Homo sapiens: one gene and its partners. The main gene of each other region encodes a partner of the protein of the gene in region 2 in a complex. Each region holds a gene or a part of one and is shown on either strand. Other genes may lie near its edges.

Region 1 (7,673 bases), on a different chromosome or scaffold from region 2:
TTGTGGAATATTACTGTTGCCCTGATGATGAAGTTCCTGAATCTGAGTCTTGAGTATGATGATTCACTGTGATATTTATGTGTACATTCATGATAAGTTGAGTTATCATTATGAGTATAAAAATCTTCATAATTTCTTATTGAATTTTCTGTAGAGAAGATGCATGGAGAAGATAAAAGCAAGGTCCCTGTACCCTAATAGTTATGTATTTTGTGAACAAATGCTTTCATGAAGTCATAGATTATCTAGTATTAGACTGGCCTGTGGCTCTGTCTTTTGAACTCATGGGAATCACTGTGAGCCAAGATGAATAAGTTATAGGTTCTATTCCACTTAAGTAAAACATTTCAAGAGTCTGAAGATTTAAAGTTTGTTGAAGGCATATCAGAACTGTTCTTTTGTTTATTTACTATTAGAAAATGCAAAGGCATATGGACATTGCTTATTAGTTTAAATGCCAGAGATTAGATATTAAAGCAGTGGTTCTCTAAGTGTTGTGTCAAGACCAACAGCATCAGAATCACCCAGGAACCTGTCAGAAATGCTGGGGGTGAGGCCTAAAATCCGTATTTTTCACAAGCTTCCCCCAGGAAATTCTAATGCATGCTAAAGTTTGGAAACCACTGTTTAAAGGATACATTTTTTAAAATTAGCATTTAATTGCATTGAGGTGTTTGCTTTTACTTGTGATTTCTTTACAAAAGTTCTGAAATTGAGGCATCACTAAACAAGTCTGAACAATTCTTTATATGATGTATTTCTAAAGTATACCTTTTTAAGAAATCTATGGACAAGATATGAAAGTCTTCAGAGTCATAGATTTTCTCCTTATTCTTAAAACTGTTCAATGCAGTACTTATTAGATACCTTTCGTTTGCTCATAAACATTTATTGACCAAATCATTGTATTAAAAACCAATTAGTGGTTTCTTACAAGACTAAACATACTCTTATTATATCTTATTATACAACACAGCAATTGCATTCCTTGATATTTACCCAAAGTTGAAAAATTAAGTCCACATAAAAACATGCACACAGATATTTATAGAAGGTTTATTCGTAATTGCCAAAACTTGGAAGCAACCAACGTGTTCTTCAGTAGGTGAATGGATAAACAGATAAATGGAGACAATGGAATATTTTTTAGTGCTAAAAAGAAATGAGCCATCAAGCCATGAAAAACCATGGAGGAATCTTAAATGCAGATTACCAAGTGAAAGAAGACAATCTGAAAAGGCTATATACTGTATGACTTCAACTATATGAAATTCCAGAAACAGCAAAACTATAGAGACAGTAAAAAGATCAGTGGTTGCCAGGATTTGTCGGGAGAGAGATGACTAGACAGAGCACAGAGGATTTTAGGGCAGGGAAACCACCCTGTATGATACTGTGAGGGTGGATACTCATTATACATTTGTCCAAACCCACAGAATGTACAACACCAAGTGTACCCTAGTGGCAACTCTGGAGTCTGGGTGATAATGATGTGTCATGCTCAGTCCACCCTGGTGGGAATGTTGATAATGGGGAGGCTGTGCATGTGTGAGGGAAAAGGGTATATGGAAACCTGTACCTTCAGCTCAATTTTACTGTGAGCCTAAAACTGCTTTAAAAAATAAAGTCTACTAAAAAGAAAAAAACTGGAAAAAAAATGCAAAGTGACATGCTTTTGTGTGTGTTCTTTCTCATTCATCAAATTCGGTATTTATTTGATAACTTGCTTTTTTCTCCATTCGCTCTTGTTTAAATGCTTATTAGCTGGTTATTATTCATCGGGGCATAAACCTGTATATTTCTTATTTTTTTTCTCTCCTGTTTTTCCATTTTATTCTTTTCTAGGCATACTTTTAGAAAGAGATCTTCAGCTTTATCACTCTATTAGCTTTAAAACTTTTCTGCTATCACATTTAGAAAATATATTTATAAAATCTCTTCTGTAATTTGTTCATTTTTTACAAGTATTAGCACTGTCTTTTTGTTTCATGGATGCAATGTCTTTTCTTATCTCTCTGATGACCATATATATTTCTTCTTCTACCCTCTGCTTTGTCCTTAAGTTCCTTCTTCTGATTTGTTTTCTGTTTTTTTTTTAAGTTGGAGGCTTTTCTGAATGTTATTTATGTCTGTTTACTCATATTTAAGAAAGAAATGTCCATACATGTATACACACAAAACTGACTTGAATTCTTTTTGCGTTGGCCTGGTTTATTTATGAGTTAGTTTAATTATAGGATTGGCACGAAAGGGCCTGAGTCTTTGTATTGGAAAACTCAAAATGTCAGTAACGGTGAGAGTTTTTCCCTTCTTGGGCCAGTTGCTACAGTAGGAGCCTCCAGTCTTCTGCTTATGGCATAAACCTTGCTGTCAGTACTCTAGAAGTCAGGGAGGAAAGGGCTTGGGGATCCCACTTTTCTCCGTGAGACTGTTAACAAACCTCCTTTTTCAGCACAGTTGCCTCCTTTCCCTTCTGTGTCTTGTGTCACCAAGTTGGGTATCTCTCTGATTAAATTTCTTGGTAAAACAAAGCTGGACGATGAGTACTTGTCTCTCTGCCCCAGGTGCAGCAGTGTACCTGCTCCTCATTGAGACCACTTCCCAGCTTAATCACTTAACTCACCTTTTACAGGACCTGAAGCCTCAAATCAGTACGCCTCTCTGGGGTTGGTGCTTGTTGGGTTCTTCCTCAACAGGGAGCTTTCTCTCGTTTACTCAGTAGGTTACCAAATTCATACACTTCACATCTTTTTAATTCTTACATATTGTTCTCTTTGGTGTTCTTTCGCCTTGTGTGATCCACTCATTCATGCATTCACTCATTCAACGAATATTTTCTGAACACCTTCTCTGTGCCTGGCACTGTGTCAGGTGAAGTGGATGCAGTGAGCCAGTGGGCAGAAATCTCTTCCCTCATGTGCCTTACATTTTAGGAGCATGAGGCAGAGAATAAACAAACAAATGACATATACCGTATGTCAGATGATGGTCAGTAACACGTGTGGGAAAAGATAATGTGGGGAAGAGGTAGAGAACATGCTGGTCAGAGAAGCCCCACAGATAAGGTGCTATTTGAGCTGAAAGCTGGCAAAAGTGTAGAAACAAGCCTTGCAGTAGAAAGTGAAGGAGGTCCTGCAGCTCTGGGCTGATTACCTGGGCATGGTTAGGTGCTCTTCCTCTGCTCCTTGAGCATCTTGAGCATGCTTTAATTATAACACTTATCATCATGTCCTATTGTGATTATTAAATCACATGTCTGTTTTCATGACTTGGCAGAGCCGCTCAACATCTGGAACTTTGTCTTACTAACTTTTATATTCTCAGAATCTAATACATCATATTAGATGTTCAGTGCATAATTGTTAATTCAATGAATAAGAAAGGAAAACCTCAAGTAAATTGCTGACTAGAATCAAGCCCTCAAGCTCTGAATTTAGGGTTAGGAGCCTGGGTTAGGAAGAAAGACTGTATATATGCTTTTGAGGCAAGCAGTCAGTGAGGGAATGAGGCATGATTACTTGCAGGTGGCTACAAGCAATAAAAATGCGGTCAAAAAGGTTAGCAGAGGGATTGCCCCACTAGTAGATAGGAACTGTTACAACAGCCTGTGACAATGAAGACAGATTGCAAACTTCCTACTTAGGCACAGATGAGAATGTAACACAGAAGAAACTGGCCGCAACTGGTTAAAGCCAAGATGGTCGAAAACTTGGCTGACTGCTGACCCTTAGCTTCATTATGCCCTTAATATCATAAAACTTCCATGGGGAAATTCCCACTCCCATCATGCACCTGACGCCATGACAGTTCCGGATTAACCATCTTTAGTCAAGAAAAGGGTGGCACCCCGATTCCGGGAATTGCCCGCCCATTTCCCAGAAAACCCCTCCCCTTGATTACAGAGTACTCCATACCTTCATTGTGCTTATTCATATAGTACGTGAACCACATTGCCTGTGACTCAAATCTTTGAGTGCCTGCACTCCTCCCTTGAGGGTGTCGTTGGTTTTGCTCCACAATAAAATGTCTATACTTTCGCTTGGGTCTCATTTTCAGATTCTCTTATGCTTTGAAGACAAGAACCTGCACTGCCCTACTGGCAACACTTTTAGATACCCTCTGAGATCAGTGTGCTTGTTTATACCAGAAAAATGTCATCACCAGGCCCCTTAGTCACAAAGTGTATCAAGAAGTCATCTGCGGTCATTTTTTACAGTTTCTAGGCCACTTTCTGTTTCCAATCAGTGTAGTTCCTATGTGGCATGACTCAGATACAAGTTTCTATAGACATTTTCTTCTGTGGCTGCTAGTGAGAACCCAAACCAGCTCAGCCAATTAGAGCTCCAGTTGTCACTCCTACCCACACTGGGCCTGGGGGTGAAGGGAAGTGTTTATTAGGGGTACATGTGAAGCCGTCCAGAAGTGTCAGAGTCTTTGTAGCTTTGAAAGTCACCTAGGTTATTTGGGCATGCTCTCCTGAGTCCTCTGCTAGTTAAGCTCTCTGAAAAGAAGGTGGCAGACCCGGTTTGCTGATCGCCCCAGGGATCAGGAGGTAAGCACCATAGAGGAGCTGGGTTAGAGACGAGAGACTTAACCGTTTCTCTGCTGAAAAAGACAACTGAGGAAAGGCCAGCCATGCTGTGCACACCTCTGAGAACCTGAACCTGCAAACATGGACATCAGCTCTGAAAGGATGGGTTCATTTCTCTTTTATTCACTTTAGCCATGTCCTCTGGTGTCTCTGAGCTGGTGTTCCTTAAGCTTCGGCTTCCTTTGGGGTTTGTCTATCAGCCTATTTGTAAGGCTGACTTTTATGCCAATAGCAAATACAAGCATTTTTTAAGTTAACAGATATTATGAAGTAAAATGCAAGTTTTTCATTTATAAGGCAACATAACTTCAGAGAAAAAACTGAGTCAATCACATAAAATGTGATTAAAATGTGATTGTTATTATATAAGAGGGTTATAGGAAGATTAGCTTCTTATGGACAAGTAGAAAAGTAGGAATCATCCAAGCTGATTGTCACAGTAGATATTCAACAAAGGTAGTGTCCTTCCTTGCTTTCATCAGTAGGATGGGGGCATTTGGATGGCTTTATCATTGCAAATATTTTTAATGTATTCCTTATTTTGAAAATGGTCCTGATAATAGTTTTAATTTTCACTCATGAACTCTACATGTATAAGTAGAGTTTCTCCAGCGCTTACCAACATATAGGAAAAAACATTATAAGGCCATTAACAGTGATAGTTTAGAATTTATTAACATTGACTCTACTGATGGGGGTATTCAAGCTTCCCTAAAATTCACAATCAGTTATTTTCAGCTCATAAACATCTTTTCCTGTTCTTTGGCTTATTTCTTCCACTTTATATGTTGCTGCTCTGGAAGTCATTAATTGCTAATAATGTCAAACATCTTTTTTATGTTTATTGGATATTTGAGCAAATTGCTCATTCACATCTTTTGCACACTTTTCAAATAGACTGTTGTTTTCTTATTGATACATGGTTCTCCATGTATTCCAAAAGCAAAACCTCTATTAGCTCTCTCTCTCTCTCTCTCTCTCTATATATATATATATAGCAGGTATAGCCATATATATATGTGTGTGTGTGTGTGTGTGTGTGTGTGTGTGTGTGTGTGTATTGCAGGTATCTGCCCAGTTTTTGCCTTGTATAATCACTTTGTTTAGTGTGTGTGTGTGCACGGATGTGTGTGTTTCCTACAAAGAAATTGAGAATATGCATGCAATCACATTTGACAAATTTTTTTTTTCTGGCTTGTCCTTTTTGTGCCTTATTTAAGGAACCTCCTTCTACTTCAATGTATTGAGAAATTCTGTGTTTTATTCAACATCATTACTATTCTATTTAGATAATTAATCCAACCAGATATATATTTTGTGTATGATATAAGAGAAAGGCTGAATATATCATTCCCTGTGTATTGTCATTTGTCTGAACACTTTTTATAGTTGGCCATTCTTTCCTTGTGATTTTTAATGCCACTTTGATTATATACCAAGCTTTAATTTACATGTGGTCCTGTTTCCACACTCTATTTATTAGTTCATTTTTTTCTACGCCACTGCCATACTGATTTAATAATTATACATTTGTAGTAAGTATTGATACCTAGTAGTAGGGATAGTACATCCTGATAAACATATTCAACTTGTTTTGCAGGTTTTTGTCTTTATTTTTTTCATTTAGGTTTTAGGATCATTCTGATAAATTCTATGAAAAACCCTTTGAGATTTTGGATAGGAGTTTATAGATTAATTTGACAACACTGCTGTCTTCATTTTATCAAATCTTCCCATTTAAAATATCAGACATACACCCACTTAAGTAGGTCCTTTAAATCTCCCAATAAAGTTTTATAAGTTTCCCTTTAAAACTCTTAAATATATTGTATTCGATGTTCTTATGTACTTTGTAGTTTTGTTGCTATTGGAAATTACTTTTTTTATGTAATTTTTTTCTCTCTTGGAGTGGTACTAAAATAAAGGAATGCATTTCTGTATATTAATCTTATAGTTATAAACTGTTGAATTATTATTTATAATGTTTTGTGTATTATTTTGGATACTATACATAAACAACTATATTACTACAACGTGATTTTGGCAACAAGTTACAAAAATAGGTTGATGGACAGAATAAAGAATCCAGAAATAGACTCACTCATATTTGGACAACTGATTTTTGCAAAGGTAAAAAAAAAAATCATTAAAAATGACAGTCTTTTTAACATATGATTCTGGGAAAATTCATATTCATATGAAAAATAAATGAACTTTGAATCATCACTTATATCATATACAAATTAACTCAAAGCAGTACATACAGCCAAATGTGAAATGATCAAACCGTAAAATTCTTACAGGAAGACATAAAATCTTCTAATCTTGAGATTGGAAAAGATTTCTTAAATAAGACACTGAAAGCATGATCCATGAAAGAACAGATTGATTAATTGCACTTCATCAGGTATATGTATATGCCAAAATTTATCAGATTGTATACTTCCAGTGTATGCACCGTGTTGTATGCCAGTTATGCCTCGATAAATCTATTTTAAAAATAACAGGAAAATGTATCCTGTTTCCTTTTTGTTGTTGTTGTTGTTGTTGTTTTGAGATGAAGTTTCGCTCCTGTTGCCCAGGCTGGAGTGCAATGGCGCGATCTTGGCTCACTGCAACCTCCACCTCCCAGGTTCAAATAATTCTCCTGCCTCAGCCTCCTGAGTAGTTGGGATTACAGGCGCCCACCACCATGCTCGGCTAATTTTTGTACTTTTAGTAGAGATGGGGTTTTGCCATATTGGCCAGTCTGGTCTCAAACTCCTGACCGCAGGTGATCCGCCCACCTTGGCCTTCCAAAGTGCTGGGATTATTACAGGCGTGAGCTACCGCGCCCAGCTAATGTATCTTGTTTTCTGAGAATTCCAGAGGTGTTGTATACTTTCTGAAGATGTCTTTCCCAGGAGTAGTGATCACCTTGCTTAAGAAGTTCTTACCTATGTCCTACTCAAATCTCTTTTACTACTGCAAATATTTTATTTTTCTTTAAAAAATATTAATAGCTCACCTTGCTTTATTTTGAATGTAGAATCACTTTTGGTGGTGTAATCTTACATGTTTTGGATTCCTTATAGGCTGATCC
Region 2 (7,566 bases):
CTGACTCTAGAGCTGCTGCTCCTCGCTGTGGGTGGGCACAGCCTCCAGACTCCGGGAAACCAGAGATTAGCGAATGATCGATGAGAGTGAATGAATGAATGAGTGGAAGGTGGGGAGAGAGAGAGAACACACAGGGGTCCACTCTGCCCCCTAGCTCACCTGCGTCCTCCCCTGGCTCCCCCTCTCCAGACCCTGCGACTCCTCCTGGGCCAGCCACCCCTGGGCTGATAGACATTTTGTTGCTGTTGCCGATGGTGGCGTCCTCGAGAAAGCACGATTTCATGTGGATTCTCTGGGCGGCTTCCCCCTCAGGGTGAGTTCCTGGACTGGGAATTCTTGCTTCAAACGAAGCTTCTGGGCCGGCAGCAGTGGCAGAGACTGTGGGTCAAAGGGAGAGAGGCCTGGAGCCAGGAGCAGCTGGACAGTGGCCGGGAACCCTGACCCCCAGCCTGGTTCACCCTCCTCCCCAGATCTCCCACCAGTGGCCCACACCATCCCAGGAGCACAGCCTGTGCCTGCCCGCCACACCTCCACCCGCCACACCTCCGCTCGTGCTGTTGTGCTGTCTGGGAAGCGTCTTTCTGCTCCACTGATCCCGCAGTGGGTCTGCCCCACTGATCCCGCCCGGCTGATCTGGACGTCAGTGTCTTCCTCTGGGATTCAGCTCCTCTCTCCTCTGCTGCCTGCTTCCCACTGCACTGGAACACTGGCCCCCACTTTTGGTTGAAATCTTATGGGGGCTCCCAGCCTGGCCCCAGCTCCTGCCATCTGGCTCTGCCCTTTCCCACCCAAACTTCTGAAGAATCATCCACACTGAGTCCCGCCCCCTCCACCCCCGAGACCTCTTCTGCTCCCTGGCCCCCAGAAACCACCCCCTCAAGGTTACCACGATCCCTCTCGCTGAACCCCACAGATGCTTCCCTGGTCTCACCAGCCTGGCCCCTCTCTGGAGACTCCTTTCCCGGGGCCTCTGCTTTCCTCCTCCCTCTCTGGCTTCTCTGCTGGTTCTTCTCCCCCAGCCCATCTCTGCATTCCCAGTGTGGGGGAGGCCTCTGCCTGGGGCCCTCTGGTCACTGCAGCCACAGCTCCTAGTACGGCACCTGTCTTCCATCCTCCCTAAACACCATTCCAGTCTCAAACCATCACCCTGCTCCAGTTGGCCCAGCCTCTGCTTCTCTGCTCATTTTACAAATGAGGAAACTGAGGTTTCCTGCAGTGGGTCGTAGGGGATGGGGATCCAGAGTGCTAGCTTTATTTTATTCATTTATTTATTGAGATGGAGTCTCACTCTGTCACCCAGACTGGAGTGCAGTGGTGCGATCTCCGTTTACTGCAACCTCTGCCTCCCAGGTTCAAGCAATTCTCCTACCTCAGCCTTCCGAGTGGCTAGGACTACAGGCGCAAGCCACCATGCCCGGTTAATTTTTTTTTTTTTTTTTTTTGTATTTTTGATAGAGACGTTTTACCATATTGGTCAGGCTGGTCTCGAACTCCTGACCTCAGGTGATCCACCCGCTTTGGCTTCCCAAAGTGCTACGATTACAGGTGTGAGCTCCCGCGCCCAGCCTAGAGTGCTAGCTTTAAAAGCCCCACCTGCTCTACTCTGGTTCAGCTGCCTGGTGGAAGGAAAGGAATTTCCCATCATGCTTCTCTTCCCAAAAAGATTCTGGCTCCAGTTCCTTCCAGTGAGGACCCACGGGGTGGCAGAGTTGGGTCTGGCCTCTAGATCCCAGTTACCTGGGGGGCTGCCAGGGGGGATGTGGGCAGGGCCCTCGGACGGGACGCCGTGGAGCCTCATCTCATTGCTGTGTCCCAGCTGCACCCGTCTCAGTATGGACTGCTCCATGTGGATGTCCTGGGGCCCCCAGGGATCAACTAGGGTCCCCCAAGTTGAGGAATCACCTGGTGCCATTGAAGGGAGGTGGCGTGGACCGGCGGAACCTGGCAGGGGACAGTGGCACAGCCTCACCGGAGATTACTGCAGGCTTCTTCCTTTCCCTCACCACCACACGCAGGCCTGTCCTCTGAATTCTTCCTGGACACCATCGAACTGGCGGCCAAAGACTTCAGGCTCTGGCTTAGAGAGCAAGAGGACCTGGCGGAATAGCTCATTTTGGGGCTCCCTGAGTTCTCAGGAGCGGGGCTGGTCCTGGGTGTTGCAGGGACACTCACAAACCCAAACAATGAGCTCCTTGTTCTGATTCCCAGTCACTCCCGAGCCTTCTGACCTCATGGGGACCAAGTCTCGTTTGGTGCCAACACCAAAGGCTCAGAGCCTCCCGCAGTGTTTTAACTGCCAGGGACAACATTTATTTTTATGGTGTTTTTCATGATTTACACTTAAAATAATACTATAAAATTGTTTTAAAATAAATTTTTAAAAAGGTGCACTACTCAACAACATTAATTAAATAATCAGACATGGGTATGGCCAGAATCAGGAAGGTGGGGCTCAGAAGATTAAAGCTAGGGAAACCATGATCTAGATTCTAGAACAAGGTTCCTCATTTCACAACTGAGGCTGACAGTGGGGAAAGGTTCTCCCAAGGTTACAGGGAGTGTCCCGACTTTGGGGCTGATGCTGTCACTCACAGGTGACAAGGCTGGGCTGACAGGTGGCTCTGTCCCCTCTTGCCACAGTGCCCGGCACAGGGTAAGTGCTCAAAGTGCAACACCGCATTTCATCCAAACTAGGATGCCACAGGTGGTGAGATGCACCCCAGTTTCCAGCCTGTTAAAATGTGGGGGAAAGTAGCGTGTCTCAGAACAAATACGGTACTACAATAACCTCCCCTGTAGCATTCCGCGGAGGGAAAGGCAATTGAGTTGTTTCTCATGAAAAACACCGGACCCCATTGAAAATGAGGCATAAGGTCAGGCGCAACACAGAGATACCCCATCTTAATTTTAAAATTTTATTAGAAAAATAAAAATTAAATTAAACTTTAAAATGAGGTAGAAAGTATCAGAGTACAGGGAAATCAGGAGAGCTTTGATCCAGGTGTCCTCATTCTCAGGACGGCCGTAAAGGTGGACTGTGGGGGTCTGGAAGCAACCCTTTCCCCTTGGAGGGCAGAATCCCCCCACTCCCCATCCCTACCCTTTGCCCCCACCCAGAGGATCCGGTGGCTCCCCACCGAGGTCCCCTCCCTGGGCTCTCTTGGGTGACTTACCGTCCTCCCTGGAGACTGTCTGTCTTGTAATGATGTTCCCGTGTCCAATCTGGATGGCTTCGGAGTTTGCAATGGAAATCCAGCTGTTGGGTCCATTCTGGCAGATCATGTTGATTGGATTGTGCTGGTAAATAATTGAGGCTGACTTTGCTCTTCTTCCAGAATCTTCTGCAAAATAATATTCAACTGTATCCCTTTGCCACTGTCTATGGGTCAGGGGTTCCCAATACCAGTCGGCAGCACCAAATTCTCCTGGGGAGCTTGTTAAAATACCCTGGGCGTTCCGAGTCAGTAGGGCCAAGTGGGAGGCCAGAGCTGGGTGTTTAACAGACACCACAGGTACCTCAGAGGGAGCCTCACTTGAAAATAGCCACTGTGAGTCACCCTACCTGTGTCTTTTGCTGCCTCCATGGCTGGGCCGCCATGATTGCTGGCTGGGAGGACCGCAGGGGCCCCACACTGCTCTCCCTAGGGGGCAGCCACAGCCCGGACCCCCGAGCACCTGCACCATTGCCCTTTTCCCTTGAGTAATGGCCGAGAAACAGCAGCCCATTGGGCCAGATCGGTCGTGTTTGGCTCCCATGACATTTTCAATATTTGAATTTGTCACTAGTGTTTAAAATCTGGTGGCTGTCACGCGTTATTCCTTCCTCACAGCAGCCCTAGGATGCTGAGACCCCCTCGGGCACCCGTCATGAGTAGCAGAGTCAGCCCTGCAGAGGTTGAGGCAGGCACCTGCCCAGACTGTGCGGGGCCCATCACCACCCTCCAGGGTCTCAGCTCCTGTGCCTTTGTGGGCCCTTCCCCCATACACAAATATTTAAATTACATTGTATAGCAAGGATAACCCAGGCTGGATTTTTAAATTTTATTTTATTTTATTTTTTGGGGGACAGAGTTTTGCTTTTGTTGCCCAGGCTGGAGTGCAATGGCGCGATCTCAGCTCAGTGCAACCTCTGCCTCCTAGGTTCAAGCTATTCTCTTACCTCAGCCTCCCGAGTAGCTGGGATTACAGGCGCCCACCACCACACCTGGCTAATTTTTGTATTTTTAGTAGAGACGGGGTTTCGCCATGTTGGCCAGACTGGTCACTCCTGACCTCAGGTGATCTGCCCGCCTCAGCCTCCCAAAGTGCTAGGATTACAGGCGTGAGCAACCGTGCCTGGCCCATTTTTAGATATTCATTATTATTGTAGTATTCATTTCCTCTGATTTTAAATGAAATTAAAATTAAAACATTTTCAAGGACCCCTGAGAATGCCATGCACCTATTGGATCTTGGCCCTGTGTGTGTTAGGTCTCACGGGGAAGCTGACCCTGCGCTGACCCTGGGGCTCCAGCCGGTAGGGGTCCAAGACTAGTCTTGCCTTCTCTTCTGCCAACTTTTAAACCCCAACTTGAGCAAAGTGCTCAAAGAAAACCATTCCCAAACTCAGACTGATCCCTGCACCCCAGAGCTGAGAACATTGGGAATGGGCCACCTCCGTCCCATTCACTGGCCTTCTGCAACTGCAGACCTTGGGCCACGCCTCCAAAAAGCTGTCCCTGGTTAATCTTGCCAGCACACCCCTTCCTCCTGGAAGCCCTTGCAGTGAATTGTCGGTAGGACCTCCAGAAGCTTCTAGCAGTTTCCGGTGAGCTGCTCAGCAGAGCACCCAGCAAAGACCAAGCACTAGTGTCATGGTTTCCCTCTGCAGCCCAGACACAGGCAGCCGGGGGCCTACCTGGGCGGTAAATCGTCCATGCTTTGGACTGCTCATCCATGTCCAGAAGGTGCCTGCTCTTCATCCTGTACAAGTCTCGGTTCACATCTTTTGCTGTCCTCATTCCCAGTGCTTGGGCGATGACCAGGGCCCTCTGGGGACCATTGTCTTTGAGAAACCTGTAGATGTCTTCCTCTGGGAGGCAGGATGGCCAGGTGGTTAGGGAGTAGTCCTAGGGTTTGCATCTGCCCCACCGCTTCCTAGCTGTGTGGCCCTGGACCCAGCCCCTCAAGGCCTGGTTTCCTCATCTGTAAAATGGGTGTCATGATAACGGGGTCATCATGACGCACCGCAGAGGTGCCCTGAGGGTGGGGGATGTGCACAGAGTGCTCTGCGCTGGGCCTGGCATGTGGCGGGTGCATGGTGAGGGTCAGCTATTGTCTGACTGGAGAAATCACTGCTCAGCCATTCAGATTCTCCCACTGTGAGGGCTGGGTCTTGGCTCTGAACACTGTATGGGAGCTGCCTGGTGGGTGGGACAGGGCCCCTGAACACTGGTGAGATCTTGTACCCTCAAGGAGGGCCTGGGGTTCCTGGGGAGTGGGATCCTGTGTCCCGGGAACTGAAGGGACATGCAAAAACTTACCCCGTTGTTGGCTGAACTGAGGGCCAGGGGTCTCTGGAATTGTAGCTGCATGTTGCTGGGGCCTCTCGGCTGCAGAAAGAAAGATGGGTCAGAGGGGTGGGGGACAGAAGACAGCACCAGGCCTCCACCCCACAAAGGTGGGCAGCTCCCTAGGGGTAAGTGGCAATGCCGGTAGTTGCAAACTCAGACTCCAGAGTTCAACACACTTGACTTCAAATCCTGCCTGCGCCCTGGCAGCTGCGGCTTCCTGCCGATTAACTTCTCCGGGGCTCAGCCTCCTTTGCCTCCTGGGGTTGTGTGAGGGCTGGGTGAACCCCAAAACAGTGCCTGGCTAATCTTAAGTGCATGATAAATGGCAGCTCCTTCTGGCTGTGGGCTGTAAAGCTAGAAAAGGGGGGCTGGTGGGACTGCATATGTTCTGTGATTGGGACCATGGCGTCATTGCTGTCTCCATCATGATGATTTTCTATTATAATTGTTAGTGTTCTGCAGAGTACCTCCTGTGTGCAGGGCTGGGCTGAGCCTGACGCAGGGCCTCCTCTCAGCAACCCCTACCAAGCAGCCCTGCTGTGAGCTCCATCAACCAGAAAAAGAAACCAAGGCACAGAGAGAGGAAACCTGTGAGCTCCCATGTGGCAGAGTTCAGATTCGAACCCAGGCTCAAATCTGTGCTTGTCCATTGCCAGGATGCTCCCTGCAGGGTCAGACCCGCCTCCCCGGGGTGGCAGTTACCAGGGCTGGACAAGGCCAGCTCTGCAGGACCCTCGCCTTCAGGATCAGTCCCGCCCAAGCACCAGGTGGCAGGGGATGTGAGGGAGACTTTCAACTCCTTTTTCATTCGGTAGAGGACTTGGTTGAGCTCCCTCTTGGGTGCTTGGCATTCCTTCACCAGCTGGGCAAGTTTCACCGGGGAGCCAGCCTCTGTCAGCACCTGCAGGATTCTTTGTTCAAGGTGGCCTGGGGGAGCGAGCGGGGGACAGAGAGGGGAACTGAGTCTCCCAGGTCCCCACAGTTGAGCCCAGGCTGGAGGCTCCAGGAGGCACGTAGGCCCCTTTTTGAGAGGGGTCCAGGGCAGAGGAAAGGGCAAGGACCCCAGCAGATGCCCCCTAAGAGCAGTAGGGCAGCTGCATCTGCCCAGAGGGAGGCATGCAGGCTGATCAGAAACGGCCTTGGCTGCGCAGCCTGGTGGCCAGGGGAGGTGCCACCTCGCCTGTGCCCTCCCCGGGTGTGGGTTCCAGAGGGCAGTGGGGTTCCTCAGCTCTCAGGTGTCCTCAGGGCAGAGGGGAGTAGAGGGCAGAAGGACGGAGCCAGAGGGAGGCAGGGGGACCTGGGAGCGCAAAGGCAAGTCCTGCCTGGGACGCCTGCCTGGGTTTACCTGATGCCCATCGCCATCCTCCCCGGGAGTGCCCTCCTCTCAGCTCACCATCCATCCATGGCGCCACTATCCATCCAAGCCAGAGACCGACCAGACATCAGAAACAGACCTTTCCCCCAGTGCCCAGTCGTGGAGCCCTGGAAATGCCATTCCTGGATTCTCTGGAATCCCCCCACTCCTCTCTTTTCTGCCAGCACCACCCCCTTCCTCTTCACCATCTCCTAGGTACAGTGATAGGCTCCCCGTTGGCCCGCCAGCTCCAGTCAGGTACCCTCCAGATCTGGCTCTGCCAACCACCCAGCTTGGCCTGCACCTGCCCCCAACTTCCCTCCAAGTGCTGGCCTGTCTGTGCTCCCTTCAGCCCCACTCTCCCCAGCCCCTTTGTGCACACTGTTCCTGCTGCCAGGAGCACCCTTCCCTCACGCCCCAACCTGTATGATGTCTACTCAACCTCCAGGCCTCCTCAGATGCCACTTCCTAGGGAAAGCCTGTCTCTGTGTCCCAGAGTGGCTGGGACGCTGCTTGTGTGTGGGTCCCCTGCAGAACTTCCCCTAGTGTCCCCTGCTGTGCTTGCATGGCTCACTGTTGTACCTTCAGCATCTAGCACAGTGCTGGGCACACAGTAGGTGCTCAGGAAATGGCAGTTGAATGTATGAGTGACTGAGTGAA
Region 3 (7,391 bases), on a different chromosome or scaffold from region 2:
AGTGAAATTCCATCTCGAAAAAAAAAAAAGAATGTGGCCTCTTCTGAAGGGCATTTATATCAGAAAAAAAAGAATGTGAGCACTGCAAGAAGTTTTTTTCTGTTCAGTTCTGTATCAGTAGTACCTAGAATAGCATCTGGCATACAGCAGGTGCTCCAAGAGTAAATGAATGGCCCTGTGGTGCCTCTTCCTAGCTAGACATGTGTTCAGTATGTCAATTAACCCATCTAAACAGGGTGGGCAATTGTCCCAATTTCCCCGGACTGTGGTCGTTCCCAGAACTAGGCTTTCAGTGCTAAGACTGGGCAAATTGGGTTTTGCTCCTAGACAAAATGTGTTGGTCACCCTACCTGTAAGCCTACATTTCATCATCTATGAAAAAATAGTTGGCTGGTCACGGTGGCGCACGCCTGTAATCCCAGAACTTTGGGAGGCTGAGGCGGGCGAATCACAAGGTCAGGAGTTCAAGACCAGCCTGGCCAACATGGTGAAACCCCGTCTCTACTAAAAATACAAAAAATTAGCTGGGTGTAATGGCGGGCACCTGTAATGCCAGCTACTCGGGAGGCAGAGGCAGGAGAATCGCTTGAACCCGGGAGGCGGAGGTTGCAGTGGGCCATGATCTTGCCACTGCACTCCAGCCCAGGTGATAAGAGTGAGACTCTGTCTCAAAATAAATCAAGTAAATAAATAAGTAAATACTATATACCTCCTTTATCATGATGGTTTAGGGGCACGGGACTGATACTCCCTTAGAAGTTAAGCTAATTGTGAAAGACTTTTTTTTTTTTTAAATACGGAATCTTGCTCTGTTGCCCAACCTGGAGTGCAGTGATGCAATCTCGACTCACTGAAACCTCCACCTCCCAGGTTCAAGCAGTTCTACCTCAGCCTCCGGAGTACCTGGGATTACAGGCGCGGGCCACCTCACCTGGCTAATTTTTGTATTTTCATTAGAGACGAGGTTTTGCCGTGTTGGCCAGGCTGGTCTGGAACTCCTGACCTCAAGTGATCCACCTGTCTCGGCCTTCCAAAGTGTTGAAATTACAGGCGTGCGCCACCACACCTGGTCTGAAAGACTTTTTAAAACTATCTTTTTTGCTTATTACGAAAGTAATACAATCTTCATTTTTTTAAATCCCAAAATGTGCAGAAGTAAATGCCATAGAAAGTGAAACCCCTGGTGACCAGGAGTGGAGTGAAGGTCGTGGTGTCTGAGCCGCACATTTCCCAGGAGTAATAGCCGAGAGTAGACCCTTTGCAGCAGCTTTGTTGGGTTTAGATTTGCCATGTCACCCCAAATAAGGTCACACATCCAATGGCAGGGGCACACAAGACAGCCCATGACCATTCCACTTTGATTATTAAACACTTAAATGACGTTAGAAGGGCAATAATTCTATTTTCACTGTGAGAAATTACTGGAACCCCTCCAAACAAAAGCTTTGTGAGCCTGCCTTGCCCTAGAAAGTCCAAAGTGGCATCAAAACACTGCCTTCCAGAAGTCCTGCCTCAGAGCAGCCTCTGTTGCAAAACGTGTCACCGCAATTGCAAAATATCCTGCTTTAGACCAGAAAGTATCATTCCCTGCCCAATTCTGTCATGGGGTTTTGGTATCAGCTCCGAGGAGTTTTCTGACCAGACGAGATGGGATCACACAGCACCCACAGCGTCACTGCACAGTCTCATCCTTTCTCCATCTGGTAGTGGGAGACTGCCTGGGAGGTGCTGGGTTGCCACCGTCCAGAGTCAGGGACGGGTGCTGGCCCCAGTGATACCCCATTCAACACCCTTCTTCTGGCCCAGCCTAAAAATTCCAAAAATCTGCTGTCTGCACCATCAATGTGCATTTCATCCACTTTTTTTTTTTTTTTTTTTTTTTTTTTTTGAGACAGGGTGTCTTGCTGTGTCACCCAGGCTGGAGAGCAGTGGTGCAATCACAGCTCATTGCAGCCTGAACCTAGGCTCAAGCAATCTTCCCACCTCAGCCTCCTGAGTAGCAGCAGGGACCACCAGTGTGTGCCACCACACCCAGCTAATATTTTTTCTATTTTTTGTAGAGGCAGGGTCTCCTTATGTTGCCCAGGCTAATCTCAAACTCTTGGGCTTAAGTAATCCTCCTGTCTCAGCCTCCCAAGGGCTGGGATTGCAGGTGTGAGCCACTACACCCAGCCCAATTCACCCTTTTTTTAGGGAAGATGTTGGGTTTGGGCTCAGAAAGATCTAGCAAACTGCATGTTTGTTGTCAGCTATGAAAACAATGCAAAAACACCAAATACTCTGTGAAATAGGAAACAGGTGGACCAGCTGGACAGTAAGTTAAATTCAACCAACCAGAACTCATCAAAGCCTTGAATCCCAGGCTGGGCACACACAGAGGAGCTCACACCCAGAGCTGGGTGTTCAGCTAGGCGTCGCAATGTTGTGACTGACCTGTGGAAGTGACCCATCCTGGACCTCAGTGGTCAGCTGGAAATGTGACATCCATGGGTAGTCATTAACAGTAAAATCACAAATTATTGTCATGCAGGAGACGATGTTGTGAAGTGGTTTGACGTTTGGATCTTGGCTCTAGGCAAGTCACTAAGCTACAGATTCTTGGCTGCACAGGGGGATGATAAACGCAGCCCTGCAGGGTGCTGCAGAGATTCTAGGAGGAAGTGTTTATAAAGCTAGTGGTGGCTGGTGCCGAGGAAGTGCTGGTGAAGGGTAAATTGCATTATTAACAAAACTTCTGGCCGGGCGCAGTGGCTCACACCTGTAATCCCAGCACTTTGGGAGGCCAAAGCGAGTGGATCGCTTGAGATCAGGAGTTCAAGACCAGCCTGCGCAACATAGTGAGACCCTGTCTCTATAAAAAATACAAAAATTGGCCAGATGTGGTGGAATGCACCTGTAGTCTCAGCTACTTGGGAGGCTGAGGTTGGAGGGTTGCTCAAGCCCAGGAGGCAGAAGTTGCAGTGAGCCAAGATCCCACTACTGCACTCCAGCCTGAGTGACTGAGCAAGACCCTATCTAAAAATAAAAAAATTAGGGTATGCAACGGTCAGAAGTAGGTAAGTGAGGAGTCAGTTCACCCTACATGTAATTTTTCATTTATTTATTTTTTTTGAGACAAAGTCCCGCTCTGTCGCCCAAGCTGGAGTACAATGGCGCAACCTCGGCTCACTGCAACATCTGCCTCCCATGTTCAAGTGATTCTCCTGCCTCAGCCTCCTGAGTAGCTGGGAGTACAGGTGCGTGCCACCATGCCTGGCTAATTTTTGTATTTTTAGTAGAGATGGGGTTTTACTGTGTTGGCCAGGCTGGTCTTGTACTCCCAACCTGAGGTGATCCACCCACCTCGGCCTCCCAAAGTGCTGGGATTACAGGCGTTAGCCACTGTGCCCTGCCCCCAACATGTAACTTCTGTTAGCTTCAAAGCCACCTCTGGGGCCCTGCACCACATATGAGCTGAAGGACACCCGTGCCTTTTCACCCGTGTAGCTCCAGCATCTTGGCACACTGTCTAGAATGTTCAATGAATGTGCACGGAAGAGCATTCTGGCTCCAGGGAGCGAGGACTGAGTCAGCTCTGGGAACAGATGAGTCAGGCTGGTGGTCCAGGCATTGCTTTTCAAGTCCTTCATGTGGCTGGAAGAACCAGTCAACTGGAACCGGATCAACAGGGGTGATGGCATGGCAAGAGTTATCTCCTGGCAGTGCCCTTCTGGCCTCACTTGCCTTCTTGGGCCAGGAAAGGCAAAGCTCACAGGACTGTATTCAGTGCCCACCCCTTCCCCCGTCCTGTGCCATTGGCTCTGGAAGGTCCCTGAAACCCCGAGTCTGGAGGAGAACAGTTGACCAGCAGGGCGGGCCCTCAGCATAGTCCTCTCTGTTCCCACTCACCCGCTCTGCCAGCCCCAGATCCTGGCAGGAAGGAAGATTGGAGGGGGTGTCTGGAATCCAATCCCAGACCTTCCCTTGCAGACTTGCCCATCTGTCTGTGGTCTAGTGTGGAGGCGAGGTCCAGGGTTTGGGAGGGGTGTGGGGGCACATGTCTGCCAAGGCATGGAGCCCTCCCAGCTGGAAAATCCTCTGAACCTGTAAGAAGAGAACACAGCCGGCATGGACACACCCTTACCCTTAGTCTCAGTTCCCACCAAGACACAGAGCATTTCCTGTGCCTTTTCCGCTATTTCACAACCTGCCTTTTCTTGCTCACCAAGGACAGAGGCTTCTTTTCCTACCAGAAGCCAGACAGCTGGCTCGAGCCTCTCCTGCTCAGCACCATGGCTAAGACCCCTAGTGACCATCTGCTGTCCACCCTGGAGGAGCTGGTGCCCTATGACTTCGAGAAGTTCAAGTTCAAGCTGCAGAACACCAGTGTGCAGAAGGAGCACTCCAGGATCCCCCGGAGCCAGATCCAGAGAGCCAGGCCGGTGAAGATGGCCACTCTGCTGGTCACCTACTATGGGGAAGAGTACGCCGTGCAGCTCACCCTGCAGGTCCTGCGGGCCATCAACCAGCGCCTGCTGGCCGAGGAGCTCCACAGGGCAGCCATTCAGGGTAAGCGGGCCCAGGCCTCCTCCTCATCCAGTGCTGAGTGCTGGCTGCTTTGTGGGAAAGGGGACCAGGAGCTCAGAGCAGCTCACTCTGACCTGGGGATTGGGAGTCTCAGGTCTACCAAAATCCAGATGACTTTAGTTCAGGAACGTCCCTTTCTTCACTCTGGCCTTTGGAACTGGGTTAGTAAACTTCCTTCAGGCTCCTAATGGGTTTTTTAAGAAGCAGGTCAGGGTCACGAAAGGCAGGAGCTGGAACACCTGTTCTTTGAGACTTCTTCACTACATTTATGATTAATACTCATGTCAGACAAACATCTCTAGGTTAGCAAAAAGGGATTGCTATGCAATCATATGAACGGGGTTGGTATAGAATCTTCTCAGTGCTGTTCACCATGTTGGCCAGGCTGGTCTCGAACTCCTGACCTCAAGTGATCCTCCCGCCTCAGCCTCCCAAAGTGCTGGGATTTCAGACATAGGCCACCGTGCCCGGCTTATTTTTATTTTTAAAGCGTATAATCTGGGTTTTGCTGACCTGTGTAAGATCTTATTTGAAACAGTTGTCCTGCTTAAAACGTTTGAAAAGTACTATTTGAGAAATATAGGCTAGGCATGGTGGCTCACACTTATAAATAATCTCAGCACTTTGGGAGGCTAAGGTGGGTGGATTGCTAGAGCTCAGGAGTTTGAGACCAGCTTGGGCAACATGGTGAAACCCTGTCTCTACCAAAAATACAAAAAAATGAGCCAGGCGTGGTAGCACACACCTGTATTTTCAGCTATTGAAAAAACAGAAAACAGGCTGAGGTGAGAGGATTGCTTGAGCCTGGGAGGCAGAGGTTGCAGTGAGCTGAGATCACATCAGGGCAACAGAGCAAGATCCTGTCTCAAAAAATAAAATAAGAGAGAGAGAAATACATAGCAACATCAAGCATGTTCTTACTGAATGGTAATTGACTGCCATTGTCTAGTCTAGGAAGTCCTGAACTTTTGTTTTTGAGATGGAGTCTTGCTCTGTCACTCAGGCTGGAGTGCAGTGGCCCGATCTCAGCTCACTGCAACCTCCACATCCCGGGCTCAAGCGATTCTCATGCCTCAGCCTCCCGAGTAGCTGGGACTACAGGTGCGCACCACCGCGTCTGGCTGAGTTTCTTATTTTTAGTAGGAACGGGGTTTTGCCATGTTGGCCAGGCTGGTCTCGAACTCCTGACCTCAAATGATCCTCCCACCTTGGCCTCTGGAGAAGCTGGGATTACAGGCATGCGCCACCACGCTCAGCTTATTTTTGTATTTTTAGTAGAGACGGGGTTTCACCCTGTTGGTCTTGAACTCCTGATCTCAGGTGATCCTCCCGCCTCGGCCTCCCAGAGTGCCGGGAATACAGGCATGAGCCACCGCGCCCGGCCCGTTGTTTTCCTCAATTTCTAAACTTTAATATCCAAGGGGATTCTCTCTCCTCTGCCCTGAATCTTGGGCCCTAAACGTGGGACAGCTTCATCATTTTGCATCTGGTTGTCCTTCCAGAATATTCCACACAAGAAAACGGCACAGATGATTCCGCAGCGTCCAGCTCCCTGGGGGAGAACAAGCCCAGGAGCCTGAAGACTCCAGACCACCCCGAGGGGAACGAGGGGAACGGCCCTCGGCCGTACGGGGGCGGAGCTGCCAGCCTGCGGTGCAGCCAGCCCGAGGCCGGGAGGGGGCTGTCGAGGAAGCCCCTGAGCAAACGCAGAGAGAAGGCCTCGGAGGGCCTGGACGCGCAGGGCAAGCCTCGGACCCGGAGCCCGGCCCTGCCGGGCGGGAGAAGCCCCGGCCCCTGCAGGGCGCTAGAGGGGGGCCAGGCCGAGGTCCGGCTGCGCAGAAACGCCAGCTCCGCGGGGAGGCTGCAGGGGCTGGCGGGGGGCGCCCCGGGGCAGAAGGAGTGCAGGCCCTTCGAAGTGTACCTGCCCTCGGGAAAGATGCGACCTAGAAGCCTTGAGGTCACCATTTCTACAGGGGAGAAGGCGCCCGCAAATCCAGAAATTCTCCTGACTCTAGAGGAAAAGACAGCTGCGAATCTGGACTCGGCAACAGAACCCCGGGCAAGGCCCACTCCGGATGGAGGGGCATCTGCGGACCTGAAGGAAGGCCCTGGAAATCCAGAACATTCGGTCACCGGTAAATTGTGTTCTTTCCTACTTTATATCGGCTGCAGAGAAAGAATGGCTGGCCGGGCACGATAGCTCATGCCTGTAATCCCAGCGCTTTGGGAGGCCAGGGCGGGAGGATTGCTGGAGGCCAAGACTTTGAGACCAGCCTGGTGAATGTAGTGAGACCCCCGCCATCTCTATAAACGAAATTAAAAAAATAAAAACCCAAAGGTTGGGCAGGGCGTGGTAGCTCTCGCCTGTAATCCCAGAGCTTTGAGAGGCCTGCACGGGAGGATCTCTTGACCCCAGGAGTTCCATACTAGCCTAGGCAACACAGTGAGACCCCATCTCTACAAAATACAATAGTGGCACGCGCCTGTAGTCCCAGCTGCTCGGGTTCACTTGAGCAGACGGAGTTCCAGGCTACAGTGAGCTGAGATCATGCCACTGCACACCAGCCTGAGCAACGTAGCCAGACTCCACTTCTACAAAACTAAAAAAAAAATTAGCTGGGTATGGTGGCACACGCCTGTAATTCTAGCCACTCAGGAAGCTGAGGCAGGAGGATTGCTTGAGCCAGGGAGTTCCAGGCTGCAGTGAGCTGAGGATGTGCCACTGCACTCCGGCCTGGGCAACAGAGCAAGACCCTGTCTCTTAAACATTTTGGGGGGAAAAAAAAAGAAAGAAAGAATGTCCGATTGAAAAAGGCAATCAGGTG
Region 4 (7,566 bases), on a different chromosome or scaffold from region 2:
GTACTATGGGACTGTACTTACTGCCCCTGAACAGTGCACTTGAAAACAGTTACAATGTTAAATTTCATGTTACGTATATTTAAACCCAAGTTAAAAAGTTAATTACAAAAAAAGGAAACAAGAAGGCCTTATGTGCCATCATGCTTTTGAGAGAGAGGGCTTCTTTGCACTGAATAACATGTTTGAAATCTAGAAAATCAGTTTAAAACCACAAGTCAAGTCGAACTCAGTTTTCTGAGGATTCAAACCAAGTTCCTAACAATATGTTACTAGGAAAATCACCACACAGGATGCATCCTACACAGTCAGAAAAGATGCTCTTACCAGGAAATGTCGGCCGAGCTTCCGGATTCGCTTCCCAGCAGAGCTTCATGAGACTGATAATTTCTCTTGGGCAGTACTCAGTGATGTCATCCACATCTGGCCTGTTCCCAGATTTTATGCACATTATCAACTGCTGCTCACAGATAGCATCTACAAAGCAAAGACTTTCTTTCAGGTCTTGCTCCTCTCTCAGGCAGGAAGGTGACAGAACTTGAACAATACTGCTCATTTTTCTCAGCCTCTGGTACAGCTGCCTCATTCCATAGAGTGGAATGGCCTTATGACAAGGAGCTGACATATTCCACTACAGAGATGACCAAACAATATCTTAATGTCTGCAGATAAAACAAAATTCTCGACAAAGCTGCCTGCTGATGGAACAAAAAGATTATGTGGGCAAGGCCAATGGCATGCTCCATGTGCAAAAGCAAATACAGGGCAGTCCTTGTCTTTAGGAGCTCAGTTTAATGAGAGTGACTTAAAACACAGAGTGATCATTGCTATTCAAGAAGGCTGAGGCTGGGCATGGTGGATCACACCTGTAATCCCAGCACTTTGGGAGGTTGAGACAGGCGGATCATGACGTCAAGAGATCAAGACCATCCTGGCCAACATGGTGAAACCCCGTCTCTACTAAAAATATAAAAATTAGCTGGGCATGGTGGTGTGCACCTGTAGTCCCAGCTACTCGGGAGGCTGAGGCAGAAGAATTGCTTGAACCTGGGAGGTGGAGGCTGCAGTGAGCCGAGACTGCACCACTGCACTCCAACCTGGCGACAGAATGAGACTCTGTCTCACGGGAAAAAAAAAAAAAAAAGGATGTACAAGGGGTTCCAGTAGCACAAACCTGACTAAAAAGGTCCAGGAAGGCTTTGTTGAGTCCAGAAAAATTAGCAGGTAAAGAATGGGAAAGGGAGACTTAAGGAGGAGGACTCCAGGAAGAGAAGCAGGATATCAACAGACTAGAAGTTACAGAGATCATGACGCATCCCACAAATTCCTCAGTGTAACTGCACACTGACAAAGAAGGGAGGGTTAGGGACGAGGCCAGTAGAGAAGCAAAGGCCAGAACATGAAGGCCTTTTATTCCACGCTGAGGAATTCGAACTTCATCCTGAAGACCACAGAGCATCTGGGAAGGATTTCCAATATGTGAGGGAGAGGGTTGCATGTGCCTTTTAGGACGACCATTTTGGCTGCCACATGAATGGTGGACGGTGGAAGGAGCCTGCTGCAGAAACGAGGAGGGTTTGAACTGAGCAGAGGCCAGTGGAGACAGAGAAAGGCAGATGGGTTGCAGATATATCTTGAGTCATACATATATCTTGAATTCACAGGTTTTGAGATCTGATAGAATGTGGGAGAGAGGGGCAAGGGCGAGTCTGGGATGACTCTGAAGTTTCTTATTGGGCAACAACTTGGTAAAAGGATGGCGATGCCACTTCCCAAGCATATGAAGAGGGGTGAAGCGGGGCGAGCTGCAGGACAGTGTCGACAGGATGTGTTTGGGGGATGCTGCTTTGGAGGTTCCTCTGGTACCTGCGATGGATCTGACTGTAAGACAAGTGGATATCCATTCCAGAGCCAGAGACACAGATTTAAGAAGCATTTGCAAAGAGATGATCATCAAACCATGGGAGCTGATGATCACCCAAGAAGAGTATGTAGGACAACATCCATCAGTTTATGCACTTAACAAACTGCAGAGTGTCTCTATCCTACACAAGCCACGACTTACTCATCTTTATATTCCCAATGCCGACTCAAGTGCCCACAGTAGGGACTGAAAAGAAATAATTCTTGAATGAAGGAGCAAGTGAATGAGTGAAAGTATGAAGTGTATGCCTTGTAGTGTGAAAGGCTAAGTCCTCACAAGCAGAAACAATCAACTTTCCTGTCTAGGAAGAACCCTGGAATTTCACAGCACCTCTCCAGCTAATGACACACTATCGAGGTTCCTATTCATCCTATGATCACTGATTCCTAAATGGGATTACTCATTCATTCAACAAAAATTTACTGGGCACCTATTAGTTCCAGGCACAGTGCGTGTAGATGCTGAGGGGACGGCAGTGGAAAGTAAGTAATGCCTTACTTTCATATGGCTCCTTATTTGCAAATATCGCCCAGAGTACTACAGCAAAGCTGTACACATCCGACTTCTCTGTGGGCTTTGCGTTGACGTCATTCAGGTGCTCGGGCGCCATGTAGTAGAGGGTGCCGCCATTCTTCTTAGCGGTGCCGTCCACTTCCCTCAGCTCATTGTGCTCTTCATTATTCAGTTTGCTCCACATCTTAAAGGAGGCAAGGCCGAGGTCTGCGATCTGCGAAAGACATTGAGCCACTGGGATTGTTTGGTGAAGGCCGTAAGCAAATCAGATCTGACTTTCAATTTTGGGCTTATCCATTATACATAAGGTACGGTAAATTTTCCAGAAATGGTTGCACTGGGCAGGTTCAAAACAGCGACTTCTCAACAGACTCATAGAAACTGTGTGTCTCCTCAGCCATTTGTAAAATGTCGCCCAGGAAACGTTCACATGAAATTCTGGTATCGTATTCCTTATGCAGTAAGGGGGAGGGGAAAAGCGGAAGATGTTTCTGACAAGAACAGTAACAACCAAACATATTTATTCTCATTCCCCATTGACTCTGCGTATGTTTTTCAACTATTTCTAGGGCTTGGGGGGAAAATGGTTATTTTCTTCTCTGCACATTTATGCAGCAGACAGTGGCTAAATACTACACCTTCTATTTCCCCAAATGGCGTCCAGAGGCCCATGGATGCAAGTGTCCAAGGATCCCAAAGACACACTGAGGATAAGGACTGCAGTGTTGCTTGTTTTGAGCTGTAGCCTGAACCTAAGAGGAGATAGGGTGGAAAGGAGGAGAAAAACAGACAAAAAAGCAGAGAGAAAAATAGCAAGGTCAGACACAGAACAAGAACAGTGCTGGCAGGGCAAAATGACAGGGCAGCACAGTTCAGAAGAGAATATAGGTGCCAGTTCCACTTCTGCCTCCAGGAATCCAAGCAAGCATGTGGGGATGAACTGTGGCACATGAGTACCTAAAATTCACAGATTCTAACCCACGACATAAGAGGGAAGTCATGAATTTGAAGATAGGTTATGAATAAGGAATTTTTATTCCCAGCCCTTTGTCCAAGACTAGGACAAAGCGCTAGACGCAGAACCTGCTGGTGATGAGAGGCCCCTGTGTCAGCAGCTCCTGGGTGCCTCCCCCAGGGCTGCTTCCCCTTCCGCTTCCCCTTTTGGATTCTTGTGCTTGGATTCCTGCTGCAGAAGCCAATTAGATATGACACTCCCCCTAGCTAAATCCTGCCCTTGAATGAACAAAAGAAAAATCCCTTTCCCTTGTTCCCTTTACGACAATGGAAAGAATGTGTTCAAAGGAAACTGATTTTTAAAATACAGACAGAAGTAAACAATCGAATACAAATATAAAACAAAATTTCAAAGTAGAGGTTTTTGATGCACTGCTGATTTTTTTTTTTTTTTTTTTTTTTTTTTTTTTTTTTTTTTTTTTTTAAGGCAGAGTTTCGCTCTTGTTGCCCAGGCTGGAGTGCGATGGCACAATCTCGGCTCACCACAACCTCCACCTCCCCGGTTCAGGCGATTCTCCTGCCCCAGCCTCCCGAGTAGCTGGAATTACAGGCATGCACCACCACGCCCGGCTGATTTTGTATTTTCAGTAGAGATGGGGTTTCTCCATGTTGGTCAGGCTGGTCTCGAACTCCCGACCTCAGGTGATCCGCCCACCTCAGCCTCCCAAAGTGCTGAGATAACAGGCGTGGGCCACTGCACCCGGCCGCTGATCTCACTCTTAGGCCATATCTGAACTCTAAGGATTTTCCGCACACACCTTCACATTCCCCTGCATTTCCAGAGGAGGAGAGTCTTGGTGACACAGATTTCCTGGAGAACATTATGACACCAATGGCCCATTCCAGGATGAAAAGGGCAACCCTTGAATGTTTCTAAATGTTTCTAACAGAGGAAAAAACACAGTCTAGGAAAGAGGTCTTCTCATCTACCCCATTCAACTCCACTCCTCCCCCAAAAGATATGAGTTATCCTGACAGTTATCTCCTGATCCCATCAAGCCTGCAGCCTTCCTCTCAATCACCGGTAGAGCCTTTCGGCACCATCATCAACAGTTATAAGCTGAGCTAGGTCTTCCTTTAGCTTCTCCAATGTACGAGAATGGATTTACATTGGAGAATTAAAACTAAAATCACCCAACTTTCTGGAAGCCTACCGATGATGGTTTACCTTAATGTGGAAGTCATTATCAACAAGGATATTTTCAGGCTTCAGGTCCTTGTGTATCACGCCTTTTCCATGTAAGTAGCACATTCCTTCAATGATTTCCAAAATTATCCTTCCTTTTACAGAAAGCGGAGTACTCATCTAAAACAAGTGATATTAAGTCTATGAAATGGAAAGGTTATCAAATAGGCCAAAGCAACTGTTTCATGAAAGGGTGGTGGGATCTGAGCCTGAGGAGAAGGTTACCAGGTTTCCTTCCAGCAGGTGCACCACAGTACTGCTGTCACTGGGAAACAAGAAAGATTTCATTCGGGGGGGGGCAGAGGGTATTCGTGTTGTATTTTGTTAGTGTAAAAACAAAAATCCCACAATAATTTGGTAATGCATAAAATACTATAAAATTAAGCTCCTTGAGAACAAAAATATATATTATTTAGGACTGTATCTTTAGAACCTAGGATTGTACCTGGAATGCTTGTTGAATGAATGGATGAATAAATATACGAGCAAGCAGTTTCTGTGGGATACTCACACGACATCATACTAAGTTTACATTAAGGACATGAACAATGCCATGCAAATGTCGCGTGTAAAATAACATTAAGAGAAAAAAGAATACAAGGGAACATGTTCACACTGATTACAATCATAGAAAAATCTGAGATAAACATGATGTTAAAACTACGCTTAAGTGAATTAATATCTATTTGATGACCTGGTAGCAGATACTTCAGGCTTCTGTAGAGTCTCAGGTCACTGGTTCTTATAATTGTATTCTTGTTATGTGAGCATCAATACTAACAGAAACAATTCCAGTTTCTATTATAGTGGTTAAATTACAGTTTTGCTTAACAATAAAAAATCAGTATACAAACAAGATGTTTCCTAAAAATGTATATGTATTTTGGTCGTTGGTTAACAGGAAAAAAATTTTAATGATAGAAGTGAGATTCCCCCTCAAACCATATTTATGACATAACGTAGCAGAGCTACACTGTTAATAGCTTGATCACCACCATACAGAAAGTAGCAGAAAAGATGTTTTCTCTTCTTCCTTGGTATACCTTTGGACTTAGGAAAAACTTCTGAGTAAGCAAAGTTGGTCCCCCTCTCTCCTCTCTTTCTGCTTCTCTCTCAGGTCCTCCTGATGCCCTGACTGAGTCCAAACAGGTGCACCTGAACTTTCCCTCATCTTGCACAATGCCTCATGTCCCCAATGATTTCTCTCTCATCTCAGAAGCTAAGCAGGGTTGGGCCTGGTTAGTACTTGGATGGGAGACCAAAGACTTATTTCCCAATCAAAATGTTTACTTCAAACAGCTGATCTTCTCTAGTTCTGGGGTGGAGAGCAATCTGATCAAACTATAATACCATGCGTATAAGTGATCACCTCTTCTCCTTCCCAAGGGTATTTTTGTGAGATGTCTGTTGGCTTGGCAATTGTGGGGTGGGAGAAGAAAGTGGAAAAGTGGGAGTATTTGCCATAAAGGCAGCCATATCCCGCCACCCCTCCCCATACCCTGTGCAATCTATGCTCTAGCCAAACCCAGGAATTTACAGTTCCCCAAATTTGGCAGTCTCTACATGGTATTCTCTCTGCCTAGAACACTTGTTCTCTAATTCTCTGCTTCAAAACGTCTACATGTCCTTCACATTGGAAGCCTTTTCTGTCTATTCCAGGCTGAGTGGGTGCCTCTCATGTGTACTCCCTCAGCAATGAGTATGTCTATCAAAACACCATCAGCTGGGAACGGTGGCTCATGCCTGTAATCCCAGAACTTCGGGAGGCCAAGGCAGTCGGATCACGAGGTCAGGAGTTCGAGACCAGCCTGACCAACATGGTGAAAACTTGTCTCTACTAAAAATTAAAAAAATAGCCAGGCATGGTGGTAGGCGCCTGTAATCCCAGCTACTCAAGAGGCTGAGGCAGGAGAGTTGCTTGAACCAGGGAGGTGGAGGTTGCAGTGAGCCGAGATTGCACCATTGCACTCCAGCCTGGGCGACAGAGCGAGACTCCTCTAAAAAAAAAAATACCACCACACAGCTGGGTGCAGTGGCTCATGCCCATAGTCCCAGCTACTCAGGAGGCTGAGGTGAGAGGATCATTTAAGGCCAGGAGTTCAAGCCTGCAGTGCACTATGATTGTGCCACTGCACTCCAGCCTGGGCAACACAGTGAGACCTTGTTCTCTTACAAAAGAAAAAAAAAAAACCCCATCACACCATACCACTTATTTAGCTATCTGCCTCCTTTTACTCTCCTACGTCATATTAGCTATTGATTCATGAGCAACTAGCGCAAGGCCTTCATCTTAACAGGCACATAAGCTTTTAAAAATGTTTTCAAATCATTTGACTTTGGTAAACAATTTTTATTTTTGTTTTAAATCCTATCCAGTGTTGTTGCCAATAATTTCTATATTTAATTTAAAATAAAACTTTGTTGAATGGTATCAAAGTGCAACCACTAATATTCTATCTGCTCTCACGGTCATTTATAGTGTATATCCTTTCATTAATCCATATTTAATGTCATCCCATCATGCATATACTCTACATCAGATGATGTCTGCATCATGAAGACAGGGCTTGTCTCTGAACTGTAGATTGCAGAGCAGCGGACAGGTATGGTAAACAGCCAATCACATTCCTAAGACACAGACTATGGAGGACTGTCCACAGGATCGAGAGGATGAAGAGACCACTCTCAGGGCAGTAAAAGGCAAGGAAGATTTTCTCTTTTTTTCAGAGACAGGGTCTTGCTCTGTTCACATGCACCTTTTATTTTTTGTAGAGAGGGGATTTCACTGTGTTATCCAGGCTGGTCTTGAGCACCAAGGCTCAAGTGATCCTCCTGCCAAAAGTGCTGAGATTACAGAAGTGACCCACGGAGCCCAATCAAGGCATAGATGTTTTAAGGAGAAACTGACTTCAGGAAATCCAGCCTGTAATCC

The links.
Region 1: ZBP1 (region 2) and AIM2 share a complex: the UniProt entries of both Homo sapiens proteins name them as parts of the AIM2 PANoptosome complex.
Region 3: ZBP1 (region 2) and MEFV share a complex: the UniProt entries of both Homo sapiens proteins name them as parts of the AIM2 PANoptosome complex.
Region 4: ZBP1 (region 2) and RIPK1 share a complex: the UniProt entries of both Homo sapiens proteins name them as parts of the AIM2 PANoptosome complex.

What each region holds. Positions count from the first base shown.
Region 1 is NC_000001.11:159,073,512-159,081,184, reverse strand, and holds the start of AIM2 (interferon-inducible protein AIM2), read left to right. Parts: upstream 1-4,418; 5' UTR 4,419-4,552; intron 4,553-4,558; exon of another isoform or gene 4,559-6,998; intron 6,999-7,665; 5' UTR 7,666-7,673. UniProt on the Homo sapiens protein: Sensor component of the AIM2 inflammasome, which mediates inflammasome activation in response to the presence of double-stranded DNA (dsDNA) in the cytosol, leading to subsequent pyroptosis.
Region 2 is NC_000020.11:57,609,990-57,617,555, forward strand, and holds part of ZBP1 (Z-DNA-binding protein 1), read right to left. Parts: intron 6,480-7,566; coding exon 6,255-6,479; intron 5,592-6,254; coding exon 5,523-5,591; intron 5,072-5,522; coding exon 4,898-5,071; intron 3,342-4,897; coding exon 3,174-3,341; coding exon of another isoform or gene 3,097-3,173; exon of another isoform or gene 2,902-3,096; intron 2,096-2,901; coding exon of another isoform or gene 2,079-2,095; exon of another isoform or gene 1,942-2,078; coding exon 1,738-1,941; intron 707-1,737; coding exon of another isoform or gene 544-706; intron 379-543; coding exon 160-378; intron 1-159.
Region 3 is NC_000016.10:3,253,468-3,260,858, reverse strand, and holds the start of MEFV (pyrin), read left to right. Parts: upstream 1-4,225; 5' UTR 4,226-4,271; coding exon 4,272-4,548; intron 4,549-6,068; coding exon 6,069-6,701; intron 6,702-7,391. UniProt on the Homo sapiens protein: Involved in the regulation of innate immunity and the inflammatory response in response to IFNG/IFN-gamma.
Region 4 is NC_000006.12:3,078,167-3,085,732, reverse strand, and holds part of RIPK1 (receptor-interacting serine/threonine-protein kinase 1), read right to left. Parts: intron 4,755-7,566; coding exon 4,617-4,754; intron 3,799-4,616; exon of another isoform or gene 3,073-3,798; intron 2,649-3,072; coding exon 2,420-2,648; intron 475-2,419; coding exon 325-474; intron 1-324. UniProt on the Homo sapiens protein: Serine-threonine kinase which is a key regulator of TNF-mediated apoptosis, necroptosis and inflammatory pathways.